Homo sapiens: one gene and its partners. The protein of the gene in region 1 purifies or fractionates together with the protein of each later gene. This does not show direct contact. Each region holds a gene or a part of one and is shown on either strand. Other genes may lie near its edges.

The links.
Region 2: the proteins of AGPAT3 (region 1) and TOM1L1 purify together in Homo sapiens (affinity purification with mass spectrometry; 2 studies listed by BioGRID and IntAct, with this or other methods). This does not show direct contact.
Region 3: the proteins of AGPAT3 (region 1) and SCYL1 purify together in Homo sapiens (affinity purification with mass spectrometry; 2 studies listed by BioGRID and IntAct, with this or other methods). This does not show direct contact.
Region 4: the proteins of AGPAT3 (region 1) and SLC39A14 purify together in Homo sapiens (affinity purification with mass spectrometry; 2 studies listed by BioGRID and IntAct, with this or other methods). This does not show direct contact.

The regions. Positions count from the first base shown.
Region 1 is NC_000021.9:43,860,810-43,868,230, forward strand, and holds the start of AGPAT3 (1-acyl-sn-glycerol-3-phosphate acyltransferase gamma), read left to right. Parts: upstream 1-4,413; 5' UTR 4,414-4,536; exon of another isoform or gene 4,537-5,856; intron 5,857-6,329; exon of another isoform or gene 6,330-6,513; coding exon of another isoform or gene 6,514-6,537; intron 6,538-7,421. UniProt on the Homo sapiens protein: Converts 1-acyl-sn-glycerol-3-phosphate (lysophosphatidic acid or LPA) into 1,2-diacyl-sn-glycerol-3-phosphate (phosphatidic acid or PA) by incorporating an acyl moiety at the sn-2 position of the glycerol backbone.
Region 2 is NC_000017.11:54,896,488-54,903,901, forward strand, and holds the start of TOM1L1 (TOM1-like protein 1), read left to right. Parts: upstream 1-4,364; 5' UTR 4,365-4,378; coding exon 4,379-4,436; intron 4,437-7,220; coding exon 7,221-7,305; intron 7,306-7,414. UniProt on the Homo sapiens protein: Probable adapter protein involved in signaling pathways. Interacts with the SH2 and SH3 domains of various signaling proteins when it is phosphorylated. May promote FYN activation, possibly by disrupting intramolecular SH3-dependent interactions.
Region 3 is NC_000011.10:65,520,106-65,528,084, reverse strand, and holds the start of SCYL1 (N-terminal kinase-like protein), read right to left. Parts: upstream 3,003-7,979; 5' UTR 2,932-3,002; coding exon 2,821-2,931; intron 2,532-2,820; exon of another isoform or gene 2,512-2,531; coding exon 2,371-2,511; intron 2,165-2,370; coding exon 2,042-2,164; coding exon of another isoform or gene 2,037-2,041; intron 1,962-2,036; coding exon 1,735-1,961; intron 1,303-1,734; coding exon 1,212-1,302; intron 1,124-1,211; coding exon 968-1,123; intron 1-967. UniProt on the Homo sapiens protein: Regulates COPI-mediated retrograde protein traffic at the interface between the Golgi apparatus and the endoplasmic reticulum. Involved in the maintenance of the Golgi apparatus morphology.
Region 4 is NC_000008.11:22,370,244-22,377,304, reverse strand, and holds part of SLC39A14 (metal cation symporter ZIP14 isoform a precursor), read right to left. Parts: intron 1-7,061. UniProt on the Homo sapiens protein: Electroneutral transporter of the plasma membrane mediating the cellular uptake of the divalent metal cations zinc, manganese and iron that are important for tissue homeostasis, metabolism, development and immunity.

The DNA of each region.
Region 1 (7,421 bases):
CCTGGGCCTTGGGCAGGGCTGGATGGGCAAGTTGTCCAATGAGGCCCCCTCAGAACTGGAAAGCCTCCTTCTGGGTGTGGAGGTGGGCAGCAATCTGCCATTTGGCCCTGGGGTCATCTCTCTGGCTCAGTTTGCTTATCTGTGAGCCCAGATGTCGGCAAGTTCAGGCTGAGAATTAGAGCAAATAATGAAGAGGGAGCCCCTTTCCCAGGGCCTGGCTCATATGCACCGTGGACAACAAATACCAAAAAGGCTGGGCACGTGGCTCACACCCGGAATCTCAGCACTCTGGGAGGCCGAGGTGGGTGGATCACTTGACGTCAGGAGTTCGAGACCAGCCTGGCCAACATGGTGAAACCCCACCACTACTAAAAATACAAAGATTAGCCGGGCGTGGTGGCAGGTGCCTGTCATCCCAGCTACTCTGGTGGCTGAATGAGGCAGAAGAATTGCTGGAACCCAGGAGGCGGAGGCTGCAGTGAGCCAAGATCGTGCCACTGCACTCCAGCCTGGGCGACAGAGCAAGTCTCTGTCTCAAACAAACAAATAAACAAAAAAACTACTTTTCTTCTTTTCATTCCTAGCAAAAATCCCCTCTCTGGACAAATACTACTCAAGGTCAGAATCTCCCTTTGCCCCCAGTTTTTCATTGAGGAGGCTGAGGATCTGAGTCTCTCTCTTTTTTTTTTTTTTGAGATCCAATCCAGTCTCACTCTGTTGCCCAGGCAGGAGTGCAATGGCATGATCTTGGCTCACCACGAGTCTCTTTCTTAATAACCAACCCCATTACCGGGTCAGGAGAAGCTGCTGCGCTGTGGCTGCATCAGGGCCTAGAGCCGGGCTGCCTGCCTCTGCTGCCCTGTGTGCTGGCGGATAAGGTAGGGAGGTTTGTTATGCCTCAGTTTCCTTAAAGGTAAAATGGGGTGTCAGTCGTCTCTACCTTGTGGCCTGGTTTTGGTTAATGAACTAATCTACACACATAACAAGGGCTCAACAAAGGTTAGCGATGACGTTTCCTGCCAATCTGAGCACCTGCACACTGGAACCCTGTAAACAGTTGAGGGTGGGTGGCTGACTTCCAGTTCCCTTCAAATGCTTCTCTGAGTGTCTGCGCACCTGCGGCTCTCCAGGGGCTCGACTCAGGTCTCAGTGATCACAGATTCTAATGAAGAAAGGGTCTGTCTCTGTCATCCAGGCTGGAGTGCAGGGGGCACGTTCATGGCTCACTGCAGCCTCGACTCCCACCTAAGCCTCCTGAGTAGCTGAGACTACAGGTGTGCTGGACCACACCCAGCTAATTTTAATTTTGTTGCCCAGGCTGGTCTGTCAGTGAAGTTTTACACCAGTGAGACAAACATAATATTTGGGGCTCATCTAAAAGCTCAAAGTGAGGCTGAAGGAGCCATCCAATGTTTAAATGAAGAGGTACATCATAATTCATTTTTAATAAGTATGCAGAGCTGGGTGGCTCATGCCTCTAATCCTGGCATTTTGGGAGGCCAAGGTGAGAGGATCGTTGAAGCCAGGAGTCTGAGAGTGGCCTGGGTAACAGAATGAGACCCCATCTTTACTAAATAAATAATAAATAAATAAATAGCTGGGCGTGGTGGTGCATGCTTATAGCCCTAGCTATTTGAGAGGCTGAGGTGGGAGGATCCCTTCAGGGATCCTGCAGTGAGCTATGATCATACCACTGCACTCCTAGCCTGGGTGACGGGGGGACACCCTTTTTCTAATAGTAATAATAAATTATAAAATATATAAATTATAAAATGTGTGCTTATGATAAATCTAAACATTACTACCTAACATACATAGAAATTTTATTGTAATAAAATTTCTTTACCCTTGCCCATTCACTATCATATCTTCACAGAGCCTTCTGGACTTGTATCTGCCTATGTTGTTTTCTGTTTTTTTTTTTTTTTTATTTGTTTGTTTGTTTTGAGACAGAGTCTCGCTCTGTCGCCCAGGCCAGAGTGCAATGGCTAGATCTCAGCTCACTGCAACCTCTGCCTCCCGGGTTCAAGCAATTCTTCTGTCTCAGCCTTCTGAGTAACTAGGATTACAAGAGAGCACCAGCACGCCCAGCTAATTTTTGTATCTTGTTTTAGCAGAGGTGGAGTTTCACCATGGCTGGTCTGGAACCCCCGACCTCAAGTGATCCACCCGCCTTGGCCTCCCAAAGTGCTGGGATTACAGGTGTGAGCCACTGCATCTGGTCTTTTTTTTTTTTTTTTTTTTTGAGATAGAGTCTCACTGTGTCACCTAGGCTGGAGTGCAGTGGCACAATCTTGACTCACTGCAACCTCTGCCTCCCAGGTTCAAGCAGTTCTCTGCCTTAGCCTCCCGAGTAGCTGGGATTACAGGCGCCTGCACCACGCCAGGCTAATTTTTTTTTTGTATTTTTAGTAGATACGGGGTTTCACCATCTTGGCCAGTCTAGTCTTGAACTCCTGACCTCGTGATCCACCAGCCTCAGCCTCCCAAAGTGCTGGGATTACAGACAGGTGTGAGCCACCGTGCCTGGCCATTTTTTGTTTGTTTGTTTGTTTTAAATAAAGCACATCATTGTATATTCACTGCTCTGCACTATTTTTATTTTTTAATTTAACAGATCTTGGAGACTATATCCTATCTGTGTACACAGAATTATCACATCACAACTTTAGAAAATGTTTTAAATTAAAAATGCTAAATGAATGTTCTAGAGTTTATTTAACCAAGTGTCTGGTTGTTCTCAGGCTTCCTGTGATTATAGGTATAGCTGTAAGTCAGCACATCCCTGTATCCACACATCCCGTGGTGCCTGTGAGAATTTATCTGTGGCACAGATTACCCAAAATGACATGAGGGGTGAGAGGTTTTACAAATGGTGAATTCCACGAGCTTTGCAAATCTTAACTCCTTTTTCAAGAATAAGGGAACTGTGAGTAGGACAGGTGCACGGTACTTTCATTTTATTTTAGTCTAAGTATTTTCTGAAATAATTTGAGGAGGCTTAAAGGGAGGTGCAAGCTGGGTGCGGGGGCTCATACTTGTAATCCCAGCACTTTGAGAGGAGGAGGTGGGAGAATACTTGAGCTCAGGAGTTCGAGATCAGCCTGGGCAACACCGTGAGGCCCCATTTCTACAAAAAAAATTTTTTTTAAATTAGCCAGACATGGTGGTGTGTGCCTGTGGTCCCAGCTACTTGGGAGGCTGAGGTGGGAGGATCACTTGAGCCCTGGAGTTCAAGGCTTCAGCGAGCTATGATTGTACCACTGCACTCCAGGGTGGGCGACAGAGCAAGACCCTGTCTCAATAATAATAAAAATAAAAAAAAAAAAAAGGAAAAAAAGGGGCACAGTAGACAGTACCAGTACTTGGTATTTTAAATGGTTTTCAAATGAAGCCCACCCAAGCTCAGCAAGTCCAGCCGGGGCCTGAGGACCTGAGCAGGCGCCAGGTCACACAAGGTACCGGGCGCAGGAGGCGGAGCCCGCAGCGGGCCCTGCCCTGACAGCGGCACCTGCGCGGCCTCCGCAGGTTCTGGGATCGGCCGCTGGCCAGGTGCAAGGGAGGGGGGACGGCAGCCGCTGTCCTGGGGCTGAGAGGGCTCCGCGGTCTGGAGGGGACGGCGTCAGCGCCCGCGGGGGTTCGCAGGGCAGCCCCGGGGCGACCCCCACCCCCGCCACGGTCAAGTGTCGATACAGTGTTGCCAGCCGGGTGCCAACTATGAATAAGTCCAAGGGCGCGGCACGTGGGCCGAAACGCGATCCTTCCGCGGAGCCGCTGCGCGCAGGGCCGTCCCCACCGAGCCCGCCGCGCGGCGACCCCTGACGGCGACCCTAAGCCCCGGCCGACCAGGGCAGGAGCTCGCGCGCGAAACTTCCCCGGCGCCCGCAGGAGACCCCGGCAGGGGAGATGGCGGGGCCCAGGCAGAGCTCGGAGGCCCCTCCCGGCCCCACCCCGCGCCCCGGCCCCCTCTGCCCCCGACCCGGTCCGGGGGAGCCCTCGCGGGACCCCAGCCTGGTCCTTCGCCGCCTCCCCCCGTTCAGCCCCGACCCCCCTGATCCCCGCGCCCCCCGCGGTCCCGGCCCGCCCCCTCCCCCAGCCCGGGCCCCAGCCCCGTCCGTTAGCGGATCCCACGCAGGCTCCGCGCCCGGCCCCGCCGGCGCCCTCGGCCCACACCTCTCTCCGCGCGCGTGTCCCGCCGTGTCGCCCCCGTGTCCCCTCCGCGTCCCCCCCCGCGCCGTCCCCCCGCGTCCCCCCCCGCGTCCTTCCCCCGTGTCCCCCCAGCGTGTCCCTCGGCCGCCCCGCGCGCGCCGGCGGAACTGTGGGATCGCCGCGCACAGGAAGTGGCGGCGGCGGCGCGGCCGAGGGCGGAGGGCGGAGGGCGGCGGGATGGGGGCCGGGGGCGGCGGGCGCCGCACTCGCTGAGGCCCCGACGCAGGGCCGGGCCGGGCCCAGGGCCGAGGAGCGCGGCGGCCAGAGCGGGGCCGCGGAGGCGACGCCGGGGACGCCCGCGCGACGAGCAGGTGGCGGCGGCTGCAGGTGAGCACCGAGGCCCCCACCCGAGGTCGGGCCGCCCCCCTCTTCCCCCACGCCCCGCCGCCGCCCGAGGTCGCCCTCCCGCCGCCGGAGGTCGCCCCTGCCCCAGCCGTCCGACCTCGGGCCGCCCGGGGCCCCGCGCCGCAATGGGCCGGCCGCGCTCCGCGGGGCGCGGGGCCTGGGAAGGCGCGGGGCCGGGAGGAGGTCTGGGCCCGGGTCCTGTGCGCCCCCCGCAACCCCGGCCTCCCCGGCGGCCTGGTCCAGCGCGAGGCCCCGGCCGCTTCCCGCAGCAGCCTCGGTGGCGCTGGGCCCAGCGGGGAGGCCCGGGGGTTCGGGGCGCCCGGGAGGGGCCCGGGCCGGGCCGAGGGAGGGCGAGTGGGTTCCCGCGGGGACGTCCCATCCCTCCGTCCTGGACTCTGCTCCGGGCCCCGCTCGGCTCCCCCGTGGACAGGACGCGCCCGCCGCCTGGTTTCGGGGCGCGGCGGACCCGGGACCCCCCCCAGGGGCCTCCTCCTCGCGCGCCCAGGCCAAGGGAGCAGTTTCACTTTTGCCGCTCCGCGCGGGGAGGGCTGCGGGGCCCGGGGTTGGCTGTGGGTTCGGCCCGGAGACCGGCGGCGCGTTTGCACCGGGCGGGTCAGGGGATGGGGTCAGTCCGGGGGCAAGAGCCGTGGGGGCGAAAACCCACTCCTGGCCACCCCAGGACCCTTGGAACATTGGTCCCAAGTACTTAGGAAAGGAGGGTTATTAGTATTTGAAGGCAGTTAAAAATGGTGCAGTGTTTTTTTTTTTTTTTTTAACTTTGAGAGAAGTTTAGTGACATGGGGAAAATGCTTTTATAAATGGCTTCCCAGACCTTTAAAAAAAAAAAAGCACAATTTTAAAAGCTTTGTCTAGGAGAATACTTGAGCAGTTGGGTTCTTTTTCCTGGGAAACATGATCTTAGTAGAAGAAAGATGTGGGCTGTTGGCCTCCAGACAGAGGGTGATGAGCATGCGGCTCTTATTAAAAATGAAAGCCAACGCCGAGAGCCTGCTGGGGGCTGGGAGGTGGGGCGGGCGGCGGGCCCAGGCTGCTAGAGGGACCCAGGATCCTGCAGCTTTTAAATTGCAGGCGCGGCTGCTCCGACTCGACTCGCTTAGGAATTGCTGAACTTCGTCTTCTCAGTTTGAAAGCTTCAGAGGGGTCTCCCGAGGATGCTGAGCACTCTCTTGATTTGGCCACTTCTTTGCCGCCCCCCCTCCCTCTTTCCAACCAATCCTCCTCCCCCACAGAGTTCGGCGTTAGCCTGTGCCTGTTACAACTCGCTTCTTGTATCCATTTCTGGTTAGTCTTAAGTATCTTCTTGAGGACATTGTCTAAAAAGCAGCTGCATGCCATTGACATTCAGACAGAACAGGGCCCCTTGGCCTTAGAAGGTGTAGGGGCCTTAAATATTCTGAAGGTGACTTCATGGAGTGGCCGCCCTCTGTGGTCACCCTACCTGTGCGTGGCCCTGTCCTGGCGTATCTGCCAGGGGGACGCGCTGCAGCAGCCTGAAGACTGCTGGGTTAAAGGCAGTGTGGCCGGGTGGGAAAGTCCCCAGGAGTGTGGATTCTAGAACAGGCCTTCCTGGAGGGAGGGTGCTGCCCCGCCCCAGGCTGGGGCCCCAGTGCAGACTCCACGCTGGGGAGCTACACCCTGCGCCTGGACGCGCGTCTGTGTGCCAGGACTGGGGAAGCAAACTGAAAGTAATGGCTTTATTTTGGAAATTAGAAAAAGAGCATTCACCAAAGTAATCTGTTCCGTCCCTGCCGTAGACACGTGACTGATACACCTGCCTCCCATCCCCTCCGCACTTTGACCTCGTAAACAAGTGATCTGACACAACAGGGCTTGAGTTACTTGCCCGAGGTTGTGTCACGGAACGGCAGGGCCGCCTTTAGGCTTACATCCCTGGAACTCCCACCTCCACAGACCCGTCCGGGTGCTGAAAGTCCACGGATGCTATCCCTGGTCAAATCAGAGGTAGGTGGGAAATGTTGGAATTCTCCTAAACAGGGAAGGGGAAGATCAGAATGTGTGTTTGAGAAGAGCCTGATTTCCTGGATTCCTTTGGAGGAGGGGTGTCCTTAACTTGCCCAATCACATTTACCCTGTTCATCAATCTTCAGCCCCGCTTAGGCTCTCACATTGCAGACCCCACGGCAGAGCCCCTAGTGCTTGGCACTGAAGAGCCAGTGCAGGCCCGTTGTCACCATCAAAACCCACCTCTGGTAAATTCAATGGCTTCTGCTTCCACGCTTTGCCCCCCCTCTCTGGCCTTGTCAAAAACTCTTGTGATGTCCCTGTTATAAGGTATCGCCGGTGGACTGGTGTTTCTAGATCGCAGCGTGGGACGTGATTGGCTACATTTGACTGTTTCCTTTTTAATGACTTGTTTAATGTGAGATCTTTAGCTGCTCCATCTCATTGCAAGATTTTTGTTACAGTAAAGTTGGACTGAGTTTTCTAAAGACAGTTGCTCAGAAATTTCATGGGAATTTACTTTTGGTTAACCGAAGAGTGTTTGGGGTTTTAAACGGGTCGTTTCAAGTGGTAAAGTAACATGACCACGAGGCGTCTGTCCTTCCTAAAACCACTTCATCATAATTTCAAGATTGATTCTAAATTACCAATTTCAAAGCGCTGCATTTTAGGCAAGTGCATTAATCGTTCACCTTCTGACAGGCTTTCATGTAGTCATTTACAAGCGGCCATGTTTTGATTATCTTTGTCAAGCAAAGTGCAGGAGACAGGCAGTCTCATAACCTTGGGGCAGTGTCTGTGTTTAGTTTTGGAGGCGGGAAGGCCGAGTTGATGGTGAAAGTTGGCCATTCTTTCTGCAGGGCCAAAGTCTGTACCTGGCTATT
Region 2 (7,414 bases), on another chromosome or scaffold:
TGCCTGTAATCCCAGGTACTTGGGAGGCTGAGGCAGGAGAATCGCTTGAACCTGGGAGGCAGAGGTTGCAGTGAGCTGAGATTGCACTACTGCACTCCAGCCTGGGTGATAAAGTGAAACGCCATCTCAGAAAAAAAAAAAAAAATCCCTTAAGGTCTATTGAGTGTCAGGACACCAAGTCCTACAAATGGGTCCTTTTTCTTTGTGGGGCCTATATCTAGGAGGCAGGGAACAGATTTCTAAACAAATCAGTGATATAATATGTTGTGGACTATAAGACAGAAATCTGTACCTGGGACAGAAAAGAAGAGTTAAATTCTTCTGGGAGTTGTCAGAAAAGACTTCATAAAGAAGGGACAAGGAGAAGGTGGGATGAGAGAAATGCAGAAAGAGAAAAAGGCGAACCTCGGAAGTGTGGGAAGACTTACTTAGGTCTAGCAGAATGGAAAGAAAATAAAATCAAATGAAGATCATTGAGAATTAGCAGTCAGAGAGAGAGAGAGAGAAAAAAAAAAAAGTAGGATAGAGAAGTGTCCTGAAAGATAAGGCTGGCTAACAAGGAAGGGCCATCACATGGGTGGTGCAGAGGGTCAAAGAGGATGAGGATGACTATTAAAGCTGAAGATCACATAGCTATGAAAGTTAGTTTTTATAGTGGGAGAGTTGGGGGAGAGAGTAGGTAGTGTTTGGAACTAGACCCACGGAAAAAGAGAAGGATAATGAGAAGGCTAGTGGATACACTATGGGGAGGGTTATAGGGAGCACATTTAAATATTAAAACAAGGAACAAGCCCGGCGTGGTGGCTCACACCTGTAATCCCAGCACTTTGGGAGGCTGAGGCGGGTGGATCACGTGAGGTCAGGAGTTCGAGACCAAACTGACCAACATGGAGAAACACCGTCTCTACTAAAAATACAAAATTAGCCAAACGTGGTGGCACATGCCTGTAATCCCAGCTACTAGGGAGGCTGAGGCAGGAGAATCGCTTGAACCTGGAGGCAAAGGTTGTGGTGAGCTGAGATTGTGCCATTGCATCCAGCCTGGGCAAGAAGAGTGAAACCCCATCTCAAAAAAAAAAAAACAAAAAAAACAAAAAAAAAAACACAAACACACAACACACAAAAAAACAATCAAATGAGAAGGCAAAAATCTCTTAGCTGCATGAATCATGATGGTGGGTTATCTTTGTTTTCTATACAGGTGTACTTGCCAAGTTCGGTCACTTCTTTCTACAGACACTGCCCCCTAGAACCCACTTCTTTCAAAATGTGAACTAGTGAAGGGCACCACCTACCATCTAGAGCTCTATCCAAGAGGGATGACATAGCACAGCCATTCAAGTCACAGGTTCTGGAATTAGACAGTCCTTCCCTAGCAATGTGACTATGTGAAAAATTATTGACTTATTTCCCCCCCCTTTTTTTCTTGAGATGGAGTCACTCTGTTGCCCAGGCTGGAGAGCAGTGGCGTGACCTCGTCTCACTGCAGTCTCCGCCTCTCGGGTTCAAGCGATTCTCCTGCCTCAGCCTCCCGTGTAGCTGGAATTACAGTCACCTGCCACCATGCCCAGCTAATTTTTGTATTTTTAGTAAAGACAGGGTTTCACCATGTTGGCCAGGCTGGTCTTGAACTCCTGACGTCAGGTGATATGCCTGCCTCGGCCTCCCAAAGTGCTAGGATTACAGGTGTGAGCCACCGCGCCCAGCCATTACTTTGGTTTTTCTAACATGAAAAATAAAGTAATAACCGTACTGGTCTCATAACGTTATTATGTGATTAAATGAGATAACGCATGTAATATGTTTAGAACATATCTGGCATATAGTTCTAGCACAAAAAATATTCGCTATTGAACAAGAACAGAAAAAAAGCAGGACCTTGTGCCAGCAAAGTATATGACTTCCCCTATTCCTGTATTCTTCAAGAGGTCTTGCACTGAATCAAGCAGATCCTTTAAAAAAGCAAGACATCAGGCTCAATAAACAGATTCACCTAGTGACAATAATATAGGCTTTGGAACCAGGCAGCCATGAGTCAAACTTTAGTGAAGCCATTTATAAACTTGATCTTTCTGAATCTCAGATTATATATTTGTAAAAATGAGGTTAATACTACCCACCTCTCAGGATTGTGAAGATTAAGATAGATTTCTAGTTGCAGACACTTAGCACATTTTACATAAATAAATGTTGACTAAGTGTTCTTGGAATTGAAATTGTGGTAAGATTTTACTCCTGGTGTCATTTTACCCCTGTGGGATTCTGCTCCTTCTCTGACCTCAACTTAGCTGTGAATTCTATTGTCCCCGCTGCTAGACTTTACTAACATTAACCACGTTGATTTTCATGCCTGGAGAGAAGAGGGATCATGCAGAACGGAACAGAGTACAGGAAGAGAAGGCTGCAACAACCACCACAACACCCTGGAGGGCACAGGGAGAGAGAAAAACTTCTGCCAGGCATTGCTGAGATAGAACACAGGTAGCACTCATCAACCTTGGTTCTGTTCACCCAAGCATCAAGTCCAGAAGACACTCCTTGCTACTGTTTCTCCTCTTTCTCGGTGCCTCAGTCCTGTCATGTAAGGAAATCAGACATAGGAGAAAAAAACAAAAAAAAAAAAAGAAGAAGAAGAAGACGAAAAGAAAAACCTCCCACATAGAAGTATGTTAAAAATCTATCTCTCTGGATGCTCGGTTCCTTTCTCGTTCTCATTAACTGATAGAAGGCCACTGACACCAACATTGGCCTAAGCTAAAATTGGTTTTCTTTTTCAGAGATTGTAGGTTGATTCTAGGTTGCAGAAAAGGCAAAATATTTTGCTAGAGGCATGGAATACAGATTAGGTTGGTGATGTCACAAAAGAGGTTTTCAACAGTGTCAGCAGAGGCTATAGTGATGAGTAAGGAAGTTGATAAACGGCAACATCTGAAATAGCTACTCGCCCTGAATAGGCAGGTGGAGAATATTAGTTACACGTGGGACAAATCCCATTATGAGACATATCATCACAACAAGAATATTTCATTCTAGATTTTAGAATCCCAGGTTTTGGCTCACTTTGGTCAAGAAAAATTATAAATAATTGAGTTACAGATAATTAAATGTTAGCCTCCTGGAGTGCATGGCAATTGGTTTTGACCTCTATATTAAAATTCACAAGACCACGGACATAAGTCAAAACAGGTCCCCTTCGTCTCCCTAGTCACCATCTCCAGGGCTAAAAAACAGACTTGAAATGGGTGGCAGTTAGACTACAGGAAACAGGATCTACAAGCACCAGGAGCTCATCTATGGCTATCTGACATCGCCTGGGGACACCTCACTCTCTGGCAGGCTCCTGCTGGCTGGAGATTGTTAACATCGCCAATCAGATGTTAATTGAATGCAAAGGAATAGGAAATAAATTCTGGTTCTGAAGGGGCAGCTGGAAAGGTGTTGGGCTTCTCAGATTCCAACCTACATTACAAAGCAGGCCTAAAGCCAAGCATACTCCTTGCCAGAAGAAACGGAAAGCCCCTCTCCCGTTTTTAGAATCAGGCTGGAAAACACGGCTCCCAGAAGGTGGGGTTAGAAAACAAGAGCTTGCGAGGCGGCGCCCTGTGGTCCCTCGAGGAAATAGTAGAGAGACAAAGAGGGCCTGCTCCTGGGAAGCCCTAAATTCGAAGCCAATCCTTCCTCCTAGACATGACCACAACTTTAAAGGGCAGGGCGCACACCTCCCCTCCCGGATCTCTAGGACAAAGGCAGGTCGAGGGTAAATATTTCTAGTTATTCAGTATATTCAGTGGCTAACTATTTATTTTGTGGGTACCAGACACCGACATAATCGGTTACGTCCTTCCCTTAATTCTCATAATTCTGAGGTTTGTGTTATTAACCCCCTATTATCTTTGGTCTACCCAGGGCAGCCAAAGAGGCGCAGAGAAGAATGACAAGGTGCCCAGCAAGCGGCAGGATCAAAGCCTGGGTCTCTAATTCCCAGGCTGGAGATTCTGGGCTGCCTGCTCCTCCTGCACGGGGCGAAAAGCCCACCTGGGATCCGAGCGGGCGGCCGCGCCACTCTCGCAGGCTCCATACACCCGCCACTACCCGCCTGTACCACCTGCAGCCGGCAGCGCAGCCTCCTCGCGGGTCCCGCAGGGCGCGCTGCAGGTGCGCTGGGCGTCCCGAAGCCCCGCCCTCGCGTCCCTGCCCCGCGCCCAGCTCCTCACGCTCGGTGCCCGCGCCCCGCAGCGGCAGCGCAGAACGCACCGCCTCTGCCAGAGCCCGGGAAGCGCTCGGGCGAAGAGGAGGAGCCAAGGGTACCGAGCGGGTGGAGTCGGGAGCCGGAGAGCGGTGGAGGCGGATTTCCTGGGCCCGGCCCTCTGGCGCTACCATGGCGTTTGGCAAGAGTCACCGGGATCCCTACGCGACCTCCGTGGGCCACCTCATAGGTAAGGAGGCGCGGGGAGAGACGCCCAGGCAGGCAGGGGACCGTGGGATCCTTTCCTGCTTGATCCATTCTCGGCCTGCAGAGGACGGAGTTAGTCCAACTTGAAAAAATTATTCCCCTCCCCCCGCAACTTTCCCAAGGCACCCGCATTCCACCCGGCCCCCTTTCGTCGTTTCCTTCTTGGCCAACTCACTGTAGAACCTCAGTCCTCAAAAATGTACCTTCCTTTCGATGCCGCCTGGGGAGTGGAACCAAACAGGTGAACCGCGGGAGTCAGGCATGGAGTGTTTGGGCCTCCACGAGGAGACACCAGAAACTTCTCGGTAGGGGAAGTTATTCCTAAAGGCACATTCTCCAGGGCACGGTATTGTTATGCCCGTTTTACAGATCAGAAGAGGAGGCTCTGGGAGACTAAGTGATGTGGCCTTACTGTGAGGGGCAGGTCTCCCCAAACCAGTTTTCTCTAGTGCCAAGCTTATACAACCTGGATTACTTTTCTGGGTAAACAAAGAGAATGAAAATGCTTGGCATTGGAGTGAAGAGGAGGGGAACATAGGAGCCATCTGGGGCCACGGAGGTCTCTCGCAGGCCACTAGGGACTACACCAGCATCCACCTAAATGATTTCTCTCTCCTCCGGATGTACCTTGCATGATGTATGTAGAAGCCAGTGATTGGACTCCTACCAGCACCAGCTCACTGCTCCTTCTTTTCCCTGATTCCTCCCTTGGGAATTGGGTGTGGCACGAGTGCATATTAATGCCAGGCAAAGTGTGATGATGTCAGGAACTTAGTGGGGTGATGAAATCGTGAGAACCTAGTAGTTGTAGTAAAGAGGCCCAGATTTGGAAAATTTAGATCACAGCTCTACTAACTGCTGTGACACCGAACACACCACTTAAACAGAACCTTAGTTTACACATCCTTATAAGATGGTCAGAGTAGCTACCATTGAGGAGATGCTTTCCCTTAATGGCTGTGCTTTTTTGGATATTAGAATGAACCCCAAGCAGAAATGGATTCAGACTGTGTCTTCATAGGCAAACGAAACTTCAGCAGTTCTTCTGCTTAATTTTTTAATTCTGTAAACATGGACTAACTGTCAGCTATGTGCCTGGACCTGGATCAGGCACTGGTGAGGCCAAGGTGAGACGTGGTCTCAAACCTGAGGGAACTCACTTTCTTGTAGAGAAGACGGGCACAGTTTTGTGTGGCACCTTTGCAATGCAAGAAAATGCAAAACACACAAAACTTAGGAGAAGGGAGAAATGAATTCTGCGTGGCTTTTGAAGGGTGAATAGGAGTTTTCTTTTCTAGGGAGGTAAGCTTTGTCCATTCGGTGCCAGATTCAAGTTTTTTGTTGTTGTTGTTTTGTTTTTGTTTTTGTTTTTGTTTTGAGACGGGGAGTGACACCCAGGCTGGAGTGCAGTAGCTCTCGGCACACTGCAACCTCCGCCTACCGGGTTCAAGCACTTCTCCTTCCTCAGCCTCCCGAGTAGCTGGGACTACAGGCACATGCCACCACGCCAGGCTAATTTTTGTATTTTTAGTAGAGATGGAGTTTCACCATGCTGGCCAGGCTGGTCTCGACCTCCTGACCTCAGGTGATCTACCCACCTCGGCCTCCCAAAGTGATTGGGATTACAGGCGGGAGCCACCGGGCCCCGCCTCAAGTGGTTCTTTTCCTGGATTGAAAGCAAGCTAAACTTTGGGGTTCCCCCAAGCAAGTCCTTATTCTTCCCCTTCTCTATCTTTTTTGTTTTTTTCTCCATTTCCCCCAGAACCCGGTGTTTTCATGCTTAGGGATCTTGTCCTTCTCTTAGGAAGATGTTAGCGCATTCATACTGAGTGTTCCATTACCCTTTCCAGATAACATCTTGTATTCTTAAAGCGGCTGTCTGGAGAGGGAAAGATGCCTGATTATCTAATCATAGGGTTCCAAGTGCAGAAGCATTCTGGTCAGCCTGGTGCAGCTGTGGTTAGTTTAGATGCTTATTATTATTAGTTCGGATAGTTATCCAGCGCCAGTTTGAAATAATTAAGGCTGAAAGTAAAAGTGTATGCAATGGAAGTTTTTACATAGTTGAGGTAAGCAGTGTCTTTGCAAGTATTGGTTGAAGTTATAATAATTGGTAAAATTAGAAGGAATCGTGAGATTAAGATGATAGGACAATAAACGTATTACTTTTATTTGGAGTTGTGCCAATGTTTTGGCTCCTAAGAACAACGGATTACTTCTCTCCTTTAAAAGTTCTTTCCTCCTGTCCCCCCAGAGAATAAATTATTTTTAAAAACAAACAGTGGGACCAAACAACCTAGATTTGAATGCCAATTCTACTTCATACTGACTGTATAACTTTGGTAATTTCCTAACCTCTCTGAACTTCTATCTCATCATCTCTCACAGTGGGTTAAATGAAATTGCGTATGATAAAATACTTAGCACTATGCAGTTCACCTTCTAGGTAGCTGCTCACTAAGCCCTAGTTCCCTTCTCTGAAAGCCAGGCAGGCGGAGATTTAGCTGGCCTGGCCTGGGCCTGTGGCCAGCTGTTGTGCTTGAGGTCTTTATTAATAGGTCACTCATTACTGTTGCTGCAGCAGCACTCTGAACTTGGGTTCTGATTGATTCCTGAATTACTGAGAACTGTTCCAAAAAAAATCACTTTGCCCTTTGGCAATGTAAACTTAATGACACTTGCTGGTGCAGCCTAGGCAGATTATTTCAGGAATACCAGACATTTTTTATTCTGTTGTAGCTCAGACTCAACAGCTTTTTCTTGGCAGAAAAGGCTACATTTGCTGGAGTTCAGACTGAAGATTGGGGCCAGTTCATGCACATCTGTGACATAATTAACACTACCCAGGATGGGTGAGTACAGCATGGTTTCCATGTATTTGCCTCTGACAAGAAGCATCAGAACTACAGCACGTTTTCTCTTGCAAATATTTCGGTTTTGTTGTTGAAAGAGTGTTTTCAT
Region 3 (7,979 bases), on another chromosome or scaffold:
TTTGCTAGATTCTTGAGGACAGTGATCTAGGTCCGCCTCACCTTCCTCCACACCGTGCTGCCCACCCCCCTGCAGCCAGTACAGGGTGTTACACCCCTGGGGACCAGAGCCAGAATGTACACGTGGAGTGACTGGAGTAACCAGAGCTGGCCCTAAATGCCTGCTGGGCACAGAACACTATACCACACATTTTCAATTCTGACTCCTCACTGGGTCCCTTTGAAGTAGGTACAGGTTGAGTCTCCCTTGTCCAAAATGTTTGGGACCAGAAGTGTTTCAGATTTCAGATGTTTTTTGGATTTTGGAATATGTGCATTATACCAATTCAACATCTTTTTTTTTTTTTTTTTTTTGAGACGAAGTCTCACACTGTCGCCCGGGCTAGAGTGCAGTGGCACGATCTCGGCTCACTGCAACCTCCGTCTCCTGGGTTCAAGTGATTCTCCTACCTCAGCCTCTGGAGTAGCTGGGATTACAGATGCCCGCCCAGCTGATTTTTTGTATTTTTAGTAGAGATGGGGTTTCTCCATGTTGGTCAGGCTGGTGTCGAATTCCTGACCTCAGGTGATCCACCCACCTCAGCCTCCCAAAGTGCTGGGATTACAGGCATGAGCCACCGCGCCTGGCTCCAATTTAACATCTGTAATCCAAAAAAATCTGAAATGCAAAATGCTCTAATGGGCATTTCCTTGGATTGTAATGTTGGTGGTCAAAAAGTTTCCAGTGTTGGAGTAGATCATGCATTTTCGGATTAGGGATGCTCAACCTGTACTATTATTGGGACTGAACTTCAGCCAAGGGAAGTCACAGAGTAAGTATGAGCTGGAGCCTGGGTTTGAACCCGGATTGGCCTAACTCCACAGTCCATGCTTGTCTCCTGAGGGTCAATTGTGAGGTACCCTGAAAAGCAGGGTAGGGGCAGAATGAAAAAGATAGGGTCGAAGCCCAGGGTGGGTTGGGGGCTCACCTGAATCTCCTCCAGGAAGAGGTTGGTTTCTACAAAGCGGTTGCTCATGAAGCCACCAGGTGCCCGGCAGTTCTGCAGGAAGCGGGCTGGGTTGGGACGCACCTTGGGGTTTGCTCCCACCAGCTCACAGTAATGGGGCACCAGCGTTTTGGGGATCTGTAGGGGAGGGGTCAGTGTCAGGGCAGGGGTAGCCAGCTGGCAGAGGGGCTGAGGCAGGGCAAAGAGCCAGGGGCAAGAAACTTACCTTCCCAGGGTTGCGTAGGGCTGCTGCCCGAGGTAGGGGCCCATTGAAGACTTCCCAAATGAGGCAGCCCAAGCGCCACATGTCTGCTGACCTGTGGCAGTGACCCAGAGCTCTTAGGGCCCCACCAACCACCTGCACAGGCCTCCAGCCTGCCTTGGGCACCAGGCACCCACTGCATGCCAGGGCCTGGCTATGTCCCTCAGCTGAGCCATCAGTCCCAAGAGGCAGGTTTCATTAGCCTCACTTAACAGATTAAAAAAACCAAGCCTCAGAGAACTAGGCACATCTGTCCAGGTCACAGAGCTTTCAAGTTCAGAATCACCCAACCCCGAATGCTGTGTCCATCCCGCCCTACCGCCCTGAGGACCCTGGGGGCAGAGGAGTGTCCCTCACTCCTGGGACACTGATTCCCTCCCCAGCCAGGCAGCAGGGAACAGGGGAGTGCCAACTAGTCTAGGAGTCCTGAGGCTGCAGGGGCCTCCAGGACAGGGCAGGTTGGGGCGCGCTGCCCCCAGTCACCCACCACTTCTCTCTGACCACTCTGCCACTGCTGTCAGCCAACTCCGGGGGGTCATACTGCTCAAGCTCGGGGATCCCCTTGCGGGGAGGTCCCCCACCGTTGCCCTGGGCCGAATACATGTAGTCCAGGCCCCCAAGCTTCCACTCGCCAGCTCGGTCCACGAACACGGCGGCCATGCAGACATTGTTGTGGATGAGGCTGCAGTCGTTGACCAGGAAGCTGAGGGCTTTCTGGGGGCAAAAGGAGCCATCACGCCCCAGCACCTGCAACCCCCCATCCCTGCTCTCATCACCACTGCCCCCCACCTCACCACGATCTGGTGTAGCCCCCAGGAGATCTCCAGCTCCTTCAGGCCACCAGCCTCCACTCTCGCCTTGAGGTATATTCCCAACGGGGTCACAGCCTCTGTCACGACGTGGAGGCATTTTTCTGTCTGGGGAAGGGGACACAGGGTTATCAAGGGCGGAGGGGCAGAGAGGAAGGAGAGATAAGCGACTTGAAGTTGGGAGAGATGGGGAAGAGGAAACCAAATCTGGGGGTGCTGGGGCACATAGGGTGGAAACAGGGCAGGAGGGGAGACAGGAGTGGGTAACCAGGACATCGTGAGGGGCAGAGACGGGCAGGCAAGGCAGCAGGTACCTCCAGTCCATCGATGTAAGCCAGGATGTTGGGGTGCCGTAGAGTTTTGAAGCGCTTGAAGGCAGCTTTGGCCACCTGGGTCTGCTCTTCCGCGCCAGGCTTCACATCATAGACGAAGATGGACACGGGGCTGCCTGTGGCCTAGGGGAGGGCAGCGGGGCCTGAGATGGTCCCAGAGCTGTTGTGTGGCCGGAAGACAAGGGCCCGCAGCCAGGTCTCTCCCCAGGTCAGCCTTAGGGACACTTCGCCGGGCCCACGTGACCCCGGCCCTGTCCGCCTGTCGGTCCCTCGGTCCCTCCGCCCGCCACGTAGGCACTGCCCGCCCCCTCCCCGGCCTGCTACCCCTTGGTTCCGCCGCCACGTCAGGCCGGGCGCAACGCGACGGGGTCGGCGGCGCGGAATAGGCAAGGCCCAGGTCGACCGCGGCCTACGGAGCTCGGCCGCACTCACCTTCTTGCGGCCGCGGTGCAGGGCCCAGGGCCCGGGCAGGCCGCCCTCTGGGGGCTCCGGGATGAGCTCGAACGGAAAGTCCCGGACCGGGTCCCGGGCAAAGAACCACATCGTCCCCACCGCCGCCGCGGGTTCGGGCGCCTTAGCTCCGGGTCCTCCGGCCGCCCGAGCCGGGGCGGGGCGGAGAGGGGGCGGGGCCTGCGTCAGACGGGGGCGGGGCCCGGGGGCCAGGGCGGGGCCTACGTCGGGGCGGAGCAGGACGTGAATTGGGGCGGGGTGGGGCAGAACCTGAGTTGGGGCGGGAAGGGGCGGGGACAAGGGAGGGGCGGGAGAGGGGCGGGGATGGGGGGGCTAGGGAGGGGCGGGGATGGGGGGGCTAGGGAGGGGCGGGGATGGGGGGGCTAGGGAGGGGCGGGGCAGTCCGGGGCGGCGGGCGGTACTAAGATCAGTACTCCGCCGCCGGGTAAGTCACTTAAAACCCTCCAAGCCTGTGAGCCCTTTTATCTAAAGAGGCCTAAATCCTAAAGGATAATAGAGCCTGCCTTCTAGCGTACTGTAAGGATGAGAGCTTAAGAAGGGACAGAGGGATGGGGAAACCGAGGCAAAAAGGGGGAGAGGTAGAAAGACTGACAGGCATGAGAGGGTGCAGTGAGGAGTGAGGCAGAGACCCAGAGAGGGAGACTGGCCCCACGCCAGACACTCTCTCCCACCAGCAAGTGGGTGCCTCCAGGCTCCGGGGAGGAGTCGGTCCTGGTGAAGTGACCATGAGAGAAGCACGAGGAGACGCCCCAGAGAAAGAGCGTGGGTGAGAGGCAGAGAGTGAATCCAAGGTTCCAAGGAGGTCCAGAACCCCGGGGCAGGGGCGGGCACCCAGGGAATGGAGGAAGGAGAGACTGAGGAGGGAAGAAGAAGTGACCCCAGGAAAGGAGGGAGGGAGAAGGAGCAACTGGGCAGGTCTGGAAGAGGCCAAAGGGCTGGGAGGGGACCCTGCTCTCCTGGGCTCAGCTGCCCGGCTCTCAAGCCAACGGATTGCATCTCTCAGTGCCTGTGTAGACAGCCATGGAGTGGTGTTAGCTCAATCAGCACATCACACTGGTGGGGATCCAGCCCCTGAGCTGTGTAGGAGGGGCTGGACAGGCAGTGGTTCTTCTGCTGGTAGGGTCTCAGGACCCAGGCTTGGGGACAGTGCCTCAACCACAGCTATGGAGCACTGGTGAGATTCTGGGACTGGTTATGAAAAGTCTGGTTGGGATGCCTTTGGGAGATAACTCAAGGGCAGAGATGCCACAGTGAGACGGTGCTGGGTTTCAATCACGGTTCAGCCCCTCATTGGATGTGAGAACTCACACAGTTCCCTTTGGGTGCGTTAGGTCCCCCATCTATAAACTGGGGTGAGGGCCAGGCACAGTGGTTCACGCTTGTAATCTCAGCACTTTGGGAGGCCGAGGCTGGAGGATCACCTGAGGTCAGGAGTTCCAGGTCAGCCTGACCAACATGTTTGAAGGGGGCCTGCCCCTCCACACCTGTGGGTATTTCTCGTCAGGTGGAGACAAGAGACTGAGAAAAGAAATAAGACACAAAGTATAGAGAAAGAACAGTGGGCCCAGGGGACCGGCACACTCAGTATACGAGGACCTGCACCGGCGCTGGTCTCTCAGTTCCCTCAGTATTTACTGATTACTATTTTCACTATCTCTGCAAGGGGACTGCGGCAGAACAGGGTGATGGTGGGAAGAAGGTCAGCAGGAAAACATGTGAGTAAAGGAATCTGCATCATAAATAAGTTCAAGGGAAGGTACTGTGCCCGGATGTGCACGTAGGCTGGATTTATGTTTCTCTTTACCCAAACATCTCAGTGTAGCAAAGAGTAACAGAGCAGTATCACCGCTAGCATATCTCACCTCCAGCCATAGGGCAGTTTTCTCCTATCTCAGAATAGAATGACTGGTGGGCTTTACACCAAGACATTCCATTCCCAGGGACATACGGGAAACAGAGGCCTTCCTCTTATCTCAACCGCAAAGAGATCTTCCTCTTTTACTAATTCTCAGCACAGACCCTTTACGGGTGTCGGGCTGGGGGATGGTAAGGTCTTTCCCTTCCCACAAGGCCATATCAGGCTGTCTCAGTCGGGGAGACAATACCCAGGCTTTCTCGGGCAGAGGTCCCTGTGGCTTTGCACAGTGCATCATGTCCCTGGTTAATAGAGAATGGAGAATGGCGATGACTTTTACCAAGCATACTGCTTGCAAACATATAGTTAACAAGGCACATCCTGCACAGCCCTAAATCCCTTAAACCTTGATTCAATACAGCGCATGTTTCTGTGAGCACAGGGTTGGAACTAAAGTTACAGATTAACAGCATCTCAAAGCAGAAGAATTTTTCTTAGTACAGATCAAAACGGAGTTTCTTATGTCTTCTTTTTTTCTGCATAGACACAGTAACAGTCTGATCTCGCTTCCTTTCCCCCACATATGTGTGGGCGGAGGAATACCTAGGTGCGGAGGCAAGAGATTGAAGGCACAAACTGTTTCAGTATAAAAAAGAAAATAGTTAGAATAAGAATAGTCATAATACAAATTAGATATAGAGATGGTCATGAACAATTATCAATCATTGTTATAAGCATTATTAATCATTAGCTTTTAATATTACTCTTTGTTGCATTACTAATATAACCTAGGAATAACCGGCGGGTATAGGGTCAGGTGCTGAAGGGACATTGTGAGAAGTGACCTAGAAGGCAAGAGGTGAGCCTTCTGTCACGCCCGCATAAGGGCCTCTTGAGGGCTCTTTGGTCAAGCGGTAACGCCAGTGTCTGGGAAGGCACCCGTTACTTAGCAGACCGCGAAAGGGAGTCTCCTTTCCTTGGAGGAGTCAGGGGACACTCTGCTCCACCAGCTTCTTGTGGAAGGCTGGATATTATCCAGGCCTGCCCGCAGTCATCCAGAAGCCTAAACCCCTCCCTGTGGTGCTGTGCTTCAATGCTCACGCTCTTTGTCCACTTTCATGCTCCTCCCATACTCCTGGTTCGTCTTTGAAATTCGTAGTAGATAGAGGTAGAAGAAATAGTGAAAGTCTTAAAGTCTTTGATCTTTCTTATAAGAGCAGAGAAGAAAACGCTGACGTATGCTGCCTTCTCTCTCTGCTTCGGCTACCTAAAAGGGAAGGGCCCCCTATCCTGTAATCACCTGACCTGCTTCACCTTGTCAATCACTTAGAAGATTCACCCTCCTTACCCTGCCCCCTTGTCTTGTATACAATAAATATCAGCGAGCCCAGCCATTTGGGGCCACTACCGGTCTCCGCGTCTTGATGGTAGTGGTCCCTGGGGCCCAGCTGTTTTCTCTTTATCTCTTTGTCTTGTGTCTTTATTTATTACAATCTCTAGTCTCCACACAGGGGGAGAACACATGCTAAGCCCCGTAGGGCTGGACCCTACACATATGTTGAAACCCCGTCTCTACTAAAAACACAAAAATTAGCCAGGTGTGGTGGTGGGCACCTGTAATCCCAGCTACTGGGAAGGCTGAGGCAGGAGAATCGCTTGAATCTGGGAGGTGGAGGTTGCAGTGAGCCGAGATCGCACCACTGCACTCCAGCCTGGACGACAGAGCGAGACTCCATCTCAAAAAAAAAGTGGGAACTTGGATGGGCACGGTAGCTCACGCCTGTAATCCCAGCACTTTGGGAGGCCGAGGCGGATGGCTCACCTGAGGTCAGGAGTTCAAGACCAGCCTGGCCAACATGGTGAAACCCCGTCTCTACTAAAAATACAAAAATTAGCCAGGCGAGGCCAGGCGCAGTGGCTCACGCCTGTAATCCCAGCACTTTGGGAGGCCGAGGCGGGCGGATCACGAGGTCAGGAGATCGAGACCATCCTGGCTAACACAATGAAACCCCGTCTCTACTAAAAATACAAAAAAAATTAGCCGGGCGTGGTGGCAGGCGACTGTAGTCCCAGCTACTCCAGAGGCTGAGGCAGAAGAATGGCGTGAACCTGGGAGGCGGAGCTTGCAGTGAGCCAAGATCGCACCACTGCACTCCAGCCTGGGCAACAGAGCGAGACTCTGTCTCAAAAAAAAAAAAAAAAAAATTAGCCTGGCGTGGTGGCACATGCCTGTAATCCCAGCTACTCAGGAGGCTGAGGGAGAATTGCTTGAACCTGGGAGGCGGAGGTTGCAGTGAGCCAAGATTGCGCCATTGCACTCCAGCCTGGGGGACAAGAGTGAGACTTCGTCTCAAAAATAAATAAATAAATAAAATAATAAAATAAAATAGTGGGAACTTTAAGCTTAGCTAACAGGGATCCAAATTCTTCAAGAGAAAGTATTTGTTGTTCAGCCCACTGTAAGATATCAAGAGCTACTTGCTAATGGCCCACACTTATTTTGTTGATGACTTATCATAGGAAAACCTTTGGTGTTCTTTCTACTTTATCTTATATTATAACGCATGAAACAGAAAAGCTGCTGTAAACAATGCTGAATCTTATGTAACAGCCAAATTTAATTTTAGAAAGTATTTAAATTGTGCTCTGTCCTAGATCTAAATGTTGAGAATTTTAAAAAAAACAAACGTTTTAACATCTGCCAAAGCATGTAAGAATAACTTCAAGCTGCCGGGCTTGGTGGCTCACGCCTGTAATCCCACCACTTTGGAAGGCCGAGGTGGGTGGATCACGAGGTCAGGAGTTCGAGACCAGCCTGGCCAACGTACTGAAAGCCCGTCTCTACTAAAAATACAAAAATTAGCCGGGCGTGGTGGCATGCGCCTGTAATTCCAGCTACTCTGGAGGCTGAGGCAGGAGAATCGCTTGAACCCGGGAGGCGGAGGTTGCAGTGAGCCGAGATCACGCCACTGCACTCCAGCCTGGGACAGAGGGAGACTCCATCTCAAAAATAAAATAAAATAAAATAAACAATAATAACTCCAAAATTAACATTATTTTGACTTCCTATTATTGTCTTTCCAAAAAATGGCTCTGTGTTTTTTGTTTGTTTTGATTTTTACTTCTTTGTTTGGTTTGGTTTTTTTGTTTGTTTTGTTTTTAGCAAATATGATGCCTAAAAAGTAAACTGTTCAGGGTTCTGGCCTATTGTGGTCGGCAGAATACTAGCCCCTCAAAGATGTCCATGTCCTAACTCTCAGAACCT
Region 4 (7,061 bases), on another chromosome or scaffold:
AAATTAAGGAAACACTTAAAAAAAAAAATGGCAGGGGCTTACCAGAAGAACACAGGAGACAACCGGAAGGAGCTCCCAAAATGGTCAAAGCTAGAACAATTTGAGCCTCAAAAAATATTATTCAACTTTAACCCACAGAACAAAATCTGATTATGAATAACCAAATGCATAAATAAATGGGGAAGCAGGGCCAGCTCTTGCTTACAAAGAATTCCAATAAATAAATGTACAAGAGGGAAATAGAGAATCATTAGTCAAACATCACAGTCATCATTGTTGCAAGCAGGGTCTACAGATGGGTGCTAAAATTAGGGGATGAAAGTACAAGGAGAAACAGGATTTGCATAGTCTCAAAGTATCTCCTGAAACTACAAAGGGAAAGAAAGATAACTTCTTCAGTTTATCCATTCAGTATTTTTTTTTTCCCCAGACATTGTCTCACTCTGTTGCCCAGGCTGGAGTGCAGTGGCTCCATCTCAGCTCACTGCAGCCTCCACCTCCCAGGTTCAAGCGATTCTCCTGTCTCAGCCTCCCGAGTAGCTGCAATTACAGGTGCATGTCACCATGCCTGGCTAATTTTTGTATTTTTAGTGGAGATGGGGTTTCACCATGTTGGCTAGGCTGGTCTTGAACTCCCGACGTCGGCCTTTGCCTGCCTCGGCCTCCCAAAATGCTAGGATTATAGGTGTGAGCCACCGTGCCTGGCCCCATTCAGTTTTTGTAAAACAACAACAACAGAAAACCCACCTTTTTTCAGTGTGGAAATCAAGCAGACACCAGCCAATCTAGATAAATGTCACCAGTAAAAAAATACTCCAACATGGCCGAGTGCAGTGGCTCACGCCTATAATCCCAACACTTTGGGAGGCTGAGGTGGGTGGATCACTTGAGCTCAGGAGTTCAAGACTAGCCTGGACAACATGGTGAAACCCTGTCTCTACTGAAAATACAAAAAAAAAAAAAAAAAAAATTAGGTGTGGTGGCTCATGCCTGTAATCCCAGCTACTTGGGAGGCTGAGGCAGGAGAATTGCTTGAAACTGGGAGGTGGAGGCTGCAGAGAGCCGAGATCACACCACTGCCCTCCAGCCTGTGCACTGAGTGAGACCCTGTCTCAAAATTAACAACAACAACAAAAAACTGTGACATGATGAATACCTCTAAAGGATGCAACATCACTTTGCGTTCCAACATTCTAGCAAGAAAAGAGGGAGAGACTGCCACAGATTGCAGCAAACTAAGGAGAAATAACTAAACAGTGTGGGATCCCATATCAGATCCTGGAAACAGCAAATGGACATTAGTGAAAATATTGGTGACGTTTAAATAAGGCCTGCAGTTTAGTTAACAGTGTTATGCCAATGTTGATTTCCTGCTCCTGATTATATAATTATACTCTGGGGTGAGGAATATAAAGGAATTCTGCTATATTTTTGCAACTCTTCTGTACATCTAAAATTAGTTCAAAAGAAAAGTTTAAAATAAAAGGAAATGGTTAAGCAAACTAAGATACAGCCATGGCTGGGTGCAGTGGCTCATGCCTGTAATCCCAGCACTTTGGTAAGCCAAGGCGGGTAGATCACCTGAGGTCGAGTTTGAGATCAGTCTGGCCAACATGGCGAAACCCCACCTCTACTAAAAACACAAAAATTAGCCGGGCATGGTGGTGCATGCCTGTAATCCCAGCTATTATTAGGGGGCGCTGAGGCAGGAGAATTGCTTGAACCTGGGAGGCGGAGGTTGCAGTGAGCCGAGATTGTGCCACTGCACTCCAGCCTGGGCAACAGAGTGAGACTCCGTCTCAAAAAAAAAAAAGATACAGCCATAAGGCAGAATAAATGCTTAGGGAGAAATTTTGATGTCGAGGTAAGATGGGTGTAGATAGCCAATTGTATCCCCTCCCCCCAAAAAAAAAACAACTGTAAGGAAATATGCCAATATGTAAAGAGAGACTGCAGCAGGATTATCGACTTTCCCCCAAATACTTTTTTGCACTTTACAATATGCATGCATTACTTTTAATAATCAGAAGGAAATAAAGTCGACAAAAATACCAAACAATTGTTTGGGGGAATTCTGTGTATAGTTAATCACATCTATTACAGTTTCTGGGAGAGACTTCTAAGGGCTGTGTTCAGACTGGAAAGGAGGCTGCTAGATGCTTCTGAGGGCTAAGGAAGGTGGCAGGAGGCTGGAGGAAGTGGACTGGTACAGAGGACATGGACGTGGGGCCATGGAGTTGCTCCAGATAAGAGCAGGCTGGCCAGGCGCGGTGGCTCACGCCTGTAATCCCAGCACTCTGGGAGGCCAAGGCGGGTGGATCACTTGAGGTCAGGAGTTCGAGACCAGGCTGGCCAACATGGTGGAACCCCATCTCTACTAAAAACACAAAAATTAGCTAGGTGTGGTGGTGTGCACCTGGAGTCCCAGCTACCTGGGAGGCTGTGATGGGAGAATCGCTTGAGCTCAGGAGGGGAGGTTTCAGTGAGCTGAGATCATACCCACTGCACTCTAGCCTGGGCAACAGAGTGAGACCCTGTCTCAAAAAAAAAAAAAAAAAAAAAAAGAGCAGGCTGGCAGGCTGCACCCCAAGACAGAGGGCTGCTGGCAAGTCTCTGATATGGAAACAGCTCTGAGTTCCAAGAGAACACTCGTACCTTAGACACCCGAGCCATTCAAGACTCCTAGACCCAACGTACATTTCCAGCTACCTCACTTGCTGCTCCCTCTCAGCCACTCTGGGCCACGTGTACCATCCCACCAGCATTCACACGGCTCTCCTTACCAGGACCCTGCTCTCTCTCCCGCTTCCTAGCTTTCAAGATGTGGCTCAGTCCCTCCCCAAGAAGCCTTCTCTGTCACCTCCTGCCACTCCCTCCTCTGGCCTCACCCAGTACCCCTCCTCTGTTCCACTTACTGCAGCTTCAGGAAGGCCATCCTGCATCTGACTTTCCACACATGCATAGCTCCTCACACATTTCACAAGCATCTCGGGAATGGAGATGGTACTCAGCAGCTCTCTTAGCTGAGCGCCACTGGACTGCTCAAGGACCCCAGGTCTCCAGTCCCTCCCTGCAGCCAACAGGCCCCTCGCCAGGTGGCCAACCTCCCCCCAACCCCACCACCTGCTGTCACCATTGAGGGTTCCCATGCCAACAGCTGTGCCTATTCCCAAACCTCTTTATGCAGGTTCTATTTATTTAAATGATTATGATTTATTTAAATAACAACTGAGGGCTGGGCACGGTGGCTCACGCCTTTAGTCCCAGCACTTCAGTCCCAGCACTTCGGGAGGCCAAGACCGGTGGATCACTTGAGCTCGAGTTCGAGACCAGCCTGGCCACCATGGCGAAACCCCATGTCCACTAAAAATACAAAAAATTAGCTGGGCGTGGTGGCGCGTGTCTGCATCCCAGCTACTTGAGAGGCTGAGGCAGAAGAATCACTTGAACCTGGGAGGTATAGGTTGCGGTGAGATTGCGCTACTGCACTCCCGCCTGGGTGACAGAGAGACACTCTGCCTTGGAAAAAAAAAAAAAAACGAGAAAACAAAAACAAAAAACCCTGAAGAATAAATGCAAAGAAAAATGTCTGACTTCTGAGAAATTTAAGCTAAGTGATCTCGAACAGTAATTCTGAAATTACTGTCTTATATGACACCTGGGGTCCCTGAAGTAAAAGACTATTTTTATTCTAATATACAAAAATTAAAAGCTTTTCACTCTCACTTTTCAGAAGCTACATGAAATGTGACACGTACCTGTGTCATCTTGAGTCTTTGAGAAATTTCTAAGGTAGAAGTTTAGGGTATAATATAATATATAGGTGGTCTCAGAGATTAGCTCAATTTGTTCTCAGAACTTTTAACTGACTTCTTAACAGCAAATTTAAGTTACACCTATTATAACCTGTTATCTCATTATCATCCAATAAATAATTATTTTAAAATCCTGAAATTTCTAAAAATATGCTAACAAGGCCATTCTTTTGACTACTTTATTTTGGAAAATATAGTTATTTTTCATGAAACTTTTTTTTTTTTTTTGAGATGGAGTCTCGCTCTGTCACCAGGCTGGAGTGCAGTGGCGTAATCTTGGCTCACTGCAACCTCTGCTTCCCAGGTTCAAGCGATTCTCCTGCCTCAGCCTCCAGAGTAGCTGGGACTACAGGCGTGCACCACCACACCCAGCTAATTTTTTGTATTTTTAGTAGAGACGAGGTTTCACCATGTTGGCCAGGATGGTCGGGATCTCTTGACCTTGTGATCTGCCCAGCTCGGCCTCCCAACATGCTGGGATTATAGGTGTGAGTCACTGCGCCCGTTCAAAACATTTTTTTTTTTAATGTTAACGTGTAATCGCCTTATTTTTGCTTTTTAAATGAATAAATAACTATTTTAAAATTTCTCAGTCTTGAGGCTGAGGCAGAAGGATCGCTTGAAGCCAGAGTTTAAGACTAGCTTGGGTAACGTAGTGAGACCATGTCTCAAAAAAATTTTTCTTTACTTAGTTTTAATTTTTAATATACTATCAATACAGATAGCCACATATACAAAAGACAATGTAAGGGGTCCTAGCATCAAAAAGTTTGAGAATTACTCATCTAGAAAGATTTGTTGCAAATGGAAAAATAATAAAAAGCTGAAATTAAACTAGGTATGTACATAAAAGCAGTAACTGGATTCCGAACATGGCTGTTTTGCAAATATCTCTTGTCTTCGCTTCATTTTTTTATTTAGTGAAAGCTAATTAACAGATTTAACCTTTTACCCAGCGATTCCACTTCACAGATATATTCTGCAAACATAAGCGCAGACAGGGTGATATGTGTGTTGGTTAAAAAAGATGATACTTCCATACTATGCAATACTACACAGCTATGACAGAGAATGCTAAAAGCATTCTATGTGCTGATATGGAAAAGATCTTAATATAGTTGCTAGGTGAAAAAAGCAAGGTGCTGAATGATGTTTAAAATGCTACCTTGGAGCATTTATTGAAAAGCTGGGGGAAGACAAGGTTTTGCTGTTTTTTACCGTCTTGATTTTTCAACTATGTGAATACGGAGCCTAGTAGGAAAAAAAAATTTAATAAAATGAAAGAAATGAGAAATTACAGGTAATACATTTAAGTATGATTTTTATATACAAACAATTTCTAAGTAGTCTAAATAAGGGATCTAAAGACTCAAAGGAAAGGGCTTGGCCCTAAATCAAAGTTTTGGTGAATAAAAATACATACATGTTTTAAAGATAAAATAAAGGGGCCGGGTGCAAGTGGCTCACACCTGTAATCCCAGCACTTTGGGAGGCTGAGGCGGGCGGATCACAAAGTCAGGAGTTGGAGACCAGCCTGGCCAACATGGTGAAACCTCGTCTCTACTAAAAATACAAAAATTAGCCAGGCGTGGTGGCGGGCGCCTATAATCCTAGCTACTCGGGAAGCTGAGGCAGGAGAATGGCTTGAACCCGGGAGGCAGAGTTTGCAGTGAGCCGAGATCGTGCCACTGCACTCCAGCCTGGGCCACAGAGCAAGGCTCCGTCTCAAAAAAAAAAAAAAAGATAAAAGATATGATTTGGCTGGGCACAGTGGCTCATGCCTGTAATCCCAGCACTTTGGGAGGCCGAGGTGGGTAGATCACGAGGTCAGGAGTTCAAAACCAGCCTGGCCAACATGGTGAAACCCCGTCTCTACTAAAAATACAAAAATTAGCCAAGTGTGATGGCAGGCACCTGTGATCACAGCTACTTGGGAGGCTGGGGCAGAGAATTGCTTGAACCCAGGAGGCAGAGGTTGCAGTGAGCCGAGATCGCACCACTGCACTCCAGCCTGGGCGACAGAGCGAGACTCCGTCTCAAAAAAAAAAAAAAAAAAAAAAAAAAAAAAAAAAAAAGACATGTATTTTTTTTTTAGATATCCAACTTTTATCTGATTTTTTTTATTAACTACTAATACTGAATGCACTGCCTACGAGGGCCATTAGGAACTCGGCGGTAATAAATGTAGGGCATTCACCTTCTCATTCCACCAAGCCCCAAGATTCTCTGGGGCCTGCCCTTGGAGGGAGGTTAGGAGTTCTAACAACAGTCCGATCTCCAGTTGCCAAGGCGGAGAATTCGGTTTCCCATGGCTGGGCACTCTGGGCTCCCTTGGGCAGGCCAATTCTGTGGCTTTCCCGGCCTCTTTTCCTTGTGCAGGTCAGAGGGCCCAGCCTCTGCGTCTCTGCCTCTGCCAGGCCCAACCAGGGGCCCCCTGAGAGGTTTAATGCCCACGGTAGTGGGGGGAGGGGGGAACAAGATAGTGGGGCTTCGTGACCCTGTGTTCTAGGGCCTGCCCTCCTGTCCCCTAGGTGGGCATGAAGCCCTGGCTGGCGACAGTCGATGGGGCGGACTCTGGACTCCTTATCTCCTGGCATTCCACCAGCCCACCAGCCTGGAGGTCAGAGAAGCCCCACTGCAGACACCCGGTGAGTCCCGGCTGGGCTGAGCAGCAGGTCCCTTCCCTGCTCACTCCCCAGCCTCCCATGTCTCCAGGGAGTCTGGAAAGAGTAAGAGACTCCTCCAGAAGAAACTAACACCCCCTCCCTCAATAAGCACAGGGACAAATGGCCCCTTCCTCTTCTAGTTTCCAAGCAAAGACTGGAGGTGTCAGCAATTTCATAATCACATTTAGGATCAAAAATAGAACCCTTCTTTGGTCTTCTCCATCAAGTCTCTTGGCCACTGGCAACCATGTGACTCGGGAATACCAATTCACCTCCCTGGATCCAGTTTCTTTCACTGTAAAATAAAGGTGCTGGACTCCAAGATCACCAAAGTCCCCTGCTCAACATTCCATGGTTGTGGGGCTCAGCAACATGGTGCAGCATTACCTTGGCCAGGTCAGGTGCAGGCAGGCTATTATCCTGACATAGTGGGGAGAGGGAGGTCCTGGTTCCCAGGCACGCACAATCTATTCACAACACTACTGTGTAAACCCCATGATTCTGCAAATGTTGGACAGGGATTGAGTTTCCTCTTGGAATAGTGCAGGGTGTGAGCAGGTAAGGAAGGAGGAAGAAGGTA